Linked DNA regions of Homo sapiens. Each later gene encodes a partner of the first gene's protein in a complex. Each region holds a gene or a part of one and is shown in the gene's direction. Other genes may lie near its edges. The genes, in order: MKS1 and TMEM67.

Region 1 (2,660 bases):
AACCCCAACAGCTTCCCCTCCCACTTAGAGTAAAATGTAAACTTGATACCCTGAATGAGCTGGCCCCTGCCTATCTCTTCCATACAACCTTCCAGTCATTCTTCCCAGCCAGGTTCATTCCCACCTTGTAGCCTTTTAAGGGCCGTTTCCTTTGTCTGAAACCCTTTCTGCCATATCTTAGCATGGCTGGTTCTTTCTGAGTTTAGGTCTCAGCCTGTGTCGCCTCTGAGAGGCCTTCTCTTACCACCCAGTCTAAATGAGCCTCCCAATCACTCAGTCCCTTCCCCGTTTTGTTTTTAGTATAGCACTCATCACTACCCAATAGTCTCTTGTTGGTTTGGTTTTTGTCTGTCTCCCTGCTTCCCCCAGAATGTCAGCTCCATGAGAGATGGGGATCTTTTCTATCTAGTTACCAAGATACCCCTAAGATATACTAGCACATAGCAGGCACTCAGTAAATGGTAAATGAATGATTGATTGTGTGAATAAATGAATAAAGAAACTGTCCGCCCCGTCTGGGAAGTGAGGAGCGCCTCTGCCCGGCCGCCCCATCTGGGAGGTGTACCCAACAGCTCCGAAGAGACAGCGACCATTGAGAATGGGCCATGATGACGATGGCGGTTTTGTCAAAAAGAAAAGGGGGAAATGTGGGGAAAAGAAAGAGAGATCAGATTGTTACTGTGTCTGTGTAGAAAGAAGTAGACATAGGAGACTCCATTTTGTTCTGTACTAAGAAAAATTCTTCTGCCTTGGGATGCTGTTAATCTATAACCTTACCCCCAACCCCGTGCTCTCTGAAACATGTGCTGTGTCAACTCAAGGTTAAATGGATTAAGGGCGGTGCAAGATGTGCTTTGTTAAACAGGTGCTTGAAGGCAGCATGCTCCTTAAGAGTCATCACCACTCCCTAATCTCAAGTACCCAGGGACACAAACACTGTGGAAGGCCGCAGGGACCTCTGCCTAGGAGAACCAGAGACCTTTGTTCACGTGTTTATCTGCTGACCTTCTCTCCACTATTATCCTATGACCCTGCCACATCCCCCTCTCCGAGAAACACCCAAGAATGATCAATAAATACAAAAAAAAAAAAGAAAAGAAAAAAGAAACTGTCTTTTTCTGAATGACTTGCTTTCCTCCCAGGCGAGCTTACTATATTTGGTCTTTGGCTTTCAGACTGGTCAAGCCCAGCATTCCAGCAGCTCTCAGGAGTAACACAGACCTGCACCACCAAGTCCCTGGCAATGGTATGGAGAATGAGAGCGGGTATCTGGAAGGGAATGAGATCTGCTCCTGGGATGGCATTTGAGGTTTTATCAGGCCAAGTGCTGTGCGCCCTGGGGAGGATTCCAGAGTTGGGTGACTTGTGTGTGGGTTCTACAGGGCCACCTGGTCCGGAGATCCTGTCTGTCTTTTTGAGCATGGCAGCAGCTTGTATTTGGGTGTCCTTTTGCATCTCAGACTCCTATTTCCCACCTGGGTGATAATTTTTCTTTTTCCCTTGTGAAGATAACCTTGTCATTGGCCACAAGGAGAACAGATTCCAAGGGAGGCCTTGCCCACCCTATGACACTCCTTTTTATAGGACAAGGTGGCTCACTTCTCCTACCCATTCACGTTTGAAGCCTTCTTCCTCCATGAGGATGAATCTTCTGGTGAGTAGCTCAGCAGTTGATCCTGGGCCTTGGTTCCCCTCAAGCAGTGCTGTCTCTTGGTGAAGGCCGCCTGTGACCTGGCCGCTTCTCTCCTTGCTCCCAGATGCACTCCCGGAGTGGCCTGTGCTCTACTGTGAGGTCCTCTCGCTGGACTTCTGGCAGAGGTACCGTGTGGAAGGCTATGGGGCTGTGGTGCTGCCTGCCACTCCAGGTAACCGCTCGTCTCTGCCCTTCTGTGGCCCACATGCCCTAGGCCCTAAGAACAAGACTAACACTCGAATGCTTCTGGTGAGGGGTGGAGATAATTGGGAATTGGAAATGTTTGGCTTGAAAGAGTTCCTGTTCCTCTGAGGACTTTCTGCCCCCCTCCATTAGCGACAATGACGTGGCCTTGGCACTGACTTCCTGACAGTCTCTCCATGTGCTTCATGCTCCTCTGATTGGACTCAGGGTGAGAAGCTGTATGGCAAAATTGGCTCATAGCATATGTGTATTGAATGAATCAGCATTCAGTTTGGAATAAAAGCATCTGTCTTTTACTGTGTGCCAGGCATTGTGCCATACTTCTCACTTAATTCTCCCAGTCACTCTGTGAGGTGCAGGTGGTATTATTTCCATTTTACTAGATGAGGAGAATGAGCTTCAGAGAGGTTAAGAAACCTGTCCTGGGTATGCAGGTAATAACTGGCAGAGCGGAAATTTGAATTTCTCCCTGATTGATTTCCATACAGGTGCTATGGGTAACCATGATAACCTGCACCAGAGGCCAGGTCATCACCAGACCAGGTGTTTTAGCTGAGTCTAGGCCTGTGTCATTGCTGGGGAGTCAGTGAGGGGCCACATGCCCTTTCTGGACCTGGCCCCAGTCTTCTCTTCCCTTGCGCAGGCTCACACACCCTGACAGTCTCCACGTGGAGACCTGTGGAGCTTGGCACGGTGGCTGAGCTGAGGAGGTTTTTCATTGGCGGTTCTCTGGAACTGGAGGACCTCTCCTATGTACGGATAC
Region 2 (3,656 bases), on another chromosome or scaffold:
TATAACTTTCTTTAAAGTCTGATGATACATTCACAATGGGACAAAATGTCTTCAGGCATGAATTTTGTCTCCATTAATCAAGGGTAAAAGGTACCACTCTGGATAAAGTGTTGAGATCTTAAAAGTTGTTTTGTCTGTCTCCAGATTCCTTTGCTCCTTTCTTCCTATGGCCCCCCAATCCCCAACTCAGTGTTCTCCATCAATGTAGGTGAATCTCTTTATATGCCTGTTGGTAGTCCTTATCCTATTTTACTGTGAGTGTTAAGTGTCTGCTTTTTCCACTGACTGGGAGCTTCTTGAGGTGAAGTATCTCATACTTAGATTTTTATCCTTTATTTGATGAATAATGCAGCAACTAGAAAGAATGCCTCAGTTTAAACATATTGCTTGTATAAATAAGAAAGATGTGTTTCAACAGCACATTCTTTAAAAATCAGAAATCTGAATAGCAGAAATAGAAAAAAAAGACAGTAAGAGCATTCGAAAACTTTAATTAGGAAAAACAAACTATAGTTGAAAATATCTTTACTTATAAAGAAGTCAGCTGATCTACAAAACAAAGTGTGCTTCTAGAATCTTTGGGAAAGAGTCAATTATATAAGTCCCTATGTGAGGAGGAGGAAAAATGTCTCCTCTTTTCATATTCCTATTTTAAAGAAAGAAAGAAAAAGGGAAGGTAAATTAAGATGTATATGAAAATTCTGTGAATTTGATGATTCCAGGTTATCTGATGAGCTTCTAATGATTCCTTAGTGGTATTATAACTTCATGTGAATTCACTCATAAAATTATATGTTCTTGTGATAACAGTATGTTTCTTAAAGAGTCAATATTGGTTTTATAAGCAGACTTAACGCTGGTACTTTTTCAGGTGTTTTATTATATGTCATTCTCAGGCACTACAATTTTTGCATAAGCTCATATCCCAGATTACAATAGATGTATTCTTTATTGATTGGGAGCGACCTAAAGGAAAGGTTCTTAAAGCTGTTGAAGGTAACTGAAATAAAAAATATTTGTACCAAAATTCTTTTGCTACCCTTGCAGAGCAAAGGAGGTAAAACTCTTTTACTCATTTTATTTTCCTGACCAGGTGAGGGTGGTGTACGAAGTGCCACTGTTCCTGTAAGCATATGGAGAACATATTTTGTAGCAAATGAATGGAATGAAATTCAGACTGTGAGAAAAATTAATTCACTCTTTCAAGTACTTACTGTCCTCTTCTTTTTGGAGGTATAAACTGTTTGATGTGATTATATGCGACTTACATGTACCTTATAAATATTAAACTAATATAATTCCAACTAAGTTTTCATGACAGTGGAAGATTTCTCTAAAGGTTGAAATATTGTTGTGAAGCCATTAAAAAGGAGTACCTTTATGTTACGTATTTTACCACAATTCTTTTTTTAAGTTTACCATCTTAAGCATTTTTAAGTGTAGAGTTTAATAGTGTTAAGTTGGCCAGGCACAGTGGCTCATGCCTGTAATCCCAACACTTTGGGAGGCTGAGGCAGGCGGATCACCTGAGGTTGGAAGTTCAAGACCAGCCTGGCCAACATGGAGAAACCCCGTCTCTACCAAAAAATACAAAATTAGCTGGGCATGGCGGCACATGCCTATAATCCCAGCTGCTCGGGAGGCTGAGGCAGGAGAATTGCTTGAACCCGGGAGGCGGAGGTTACAGTGAGCCGAGATTGCACCATTGAACTCCAGCCTGGGCAGAAAGAGCAAAACTCCATCTCAGAAAAAAACAAACAAACAAAAAGTAGTGTTACGTACATTCACATTGCCACGCAAAATCATCATCACCATTCATCTTAGAACTCTTCATCTTGCAAAACTGAAACTCTATACCCCTTAAACAACTCTGTACCCATTCCCTGCTACACCTAACCCCAGGCAACCACCATTCTATAATACTTTCTGTCTCTGTGTGTTTGACTGCTCTAGGTGTAAGGAGTAGCTTTAAAACCACTGGTTTGTATCAGAATCCCTTGGGGATCTTTTGTAAAATACCTATGCTCAGGCTCACCCTTAGAGACTATGTGTTGATTTAGTAGCTTTGAGGTAACTCCAGGTATCTATATTTTGAAAAAGCTCCCTACCCCCGATCCATATTCTCCCCTGCATTAGAATCACTATTATAAGTTTGATATTTTTCAACAAATTTGTATTGAACACTTACTGTAGACTATGTTCTGTGCTAAGAGCTGGGGCTACACTGAACAAAACACAACATGTTTGTGATACATATGCAGTTATTTCATGGATTTGGTTGGAATTATTAAAGGAAGTATTCAGTACTGAGTATAAGACTGAACATGGAAACAGTTTATATGGGAATAGGTTTTCTCAGGAATTATCTGCTTAATTAAGATTGAATATAAATCATTAACTCTTAGGTCTGTCTGTCTGCCTTCCCTCTTTTTTCTTCTTTCTTTCCATTCTCTTTCCCCTTTCCCTTCCTTTCCTTTTATAAAACTAGTAGAAGAATGTTTGTATCCCTAGGGCTTTAAAATAATATGAACAAGACTTCCAAAGTTCACTTGAAGTGGTATTTTGGTTTTTCTTAAATGGACAGATAAAAATTACATATGTTTATAGTTTACAATACAGTGTTTTGATATATGTATTCATTGTGGAATGGCTAAATCAAGCTAGTTTATCTGTTACCTCACATCTTTTCTTTTTGTACTAAAGTAGTGTGTGTGTGTGTGTGTGTGTGTGTGTGTGTGTGTGTGTGTTTAAGAGTTTCCTCAGCTTTAAAAGGTGTTATGTGAAAAAGTTTTATGGTCAAGTAAGTTTGGAAAATATTGGATTCAGTATAATCATGTAGCACCTTTTACTGTAAAACTTCTCAGAGCCTTTATTCTACAAGGGTGGGAGGCATGGAGGTGAGTGTAATGGATGGACCAAAAGTATTTAAACATAGATTCTTTTTTCAAGAACTTATGTCCTTTAGAAGACATTTTGTAATATACTGTTTTAAAGTATAAAAATGTTTAGTACAGTGCCTGGCACATGTCAAATACTCATGAAATACTACTTGTTGGTTTCACTCATTGGTAGTTTACTGATGAAAGTTTTATCCTTTTAATTAAATTTTTAGTCTTGTCAGTGTGTATGACAATAAGGTTATATTTGGCCCTTAGTCATATTGAGAAGAATGCCAAATGAGCTAACTAAATATTGTGTAATAAATACTTTGTAGTTAAAATACTATATAATAATTATTTTTATCTAGATTTTCTACTGTTTATACAAACTTAGATATTTTAGTTTTTCAAGGTGAGTAGGGAGAGGTTTTCTGTTTTCAGTCTAGAGTAGTTTTCTTTATCCATGTCCGTTTAAATTACTACTTTTCCTTTTTACTCCAGGTTGTGGGATTCAAGAACTTAGCATTAATGGACTCATCTTCTAGTCTTTCTAGAAACCCACCTAGCTACATAGCTCCTTATAGCTGCATTTTGAGATATGCAGTGTCTGCTGCTCTTTGGCTAGCCATTGGAATTATACAGGTAAGGAATTATACAGGTAATATTACTTCTAAGTAACATTGCTTCTTTATAACTCTGCCTAATTACTGATTATCATCAAATATTGACCACATCCTTCTTTCTGTAGCAGAAAGAAGGTGACAAGAACAATAGCTA

Evidence for each region.
Region 2: MKS1 (region 1) and TMEM67 share a complex: the UniProt entries of both Homo sapiens proteins name them as parts of the tectonic-like complex.

Annotation. Positions count from the first base shown.
Region 1 is NC_000017.11:58,207,099-58,209,758, reverse strand, and holds part of MKS1 (tectonic-like complex member MKS1), read left to right. Parts: intron 1-1,175; coding exon 1,176-1,246; exon of another isoform or gene 1,247-1,251; intron 1,252-1,584; coding exon 1,585-1,654; intron 1,655-1,757; coding exon 1,758-1,865; intron 1,866-2,029; coding exon of another isoform or gene 2,030-2,055; exon of another isoform or gene 2,056-2,198; intron 2,199-2,540; coding exon 2,541-2,660. UniProt on the Homo sapiens protein: Component of the tectonic-like complex, a complex localized at the transition zone of primary cilia and acting as a barrier that prevents diffusion of transmembrane proteins between the cilia and plasma membranes.
Region 2 is NC_000008.11:93,796,238-93,799,893, forward strand, and holds part of TMEM67 (meckelin isoform 1 precursor), read left to right. Parts: intron 1-896; coding exon 897-996; intron 997-1,093; coding exon 1,094-1,233; intron 1,234-3,380; coding exon 3,381-3,521; intron 3,522-3,656. UniProt on the Homo sapiens protein: Required for ciliary structure and function. Part of the tectonic-like complex which is required for tissue-specific ciliogenesis and may regulate ciliary membrane composition.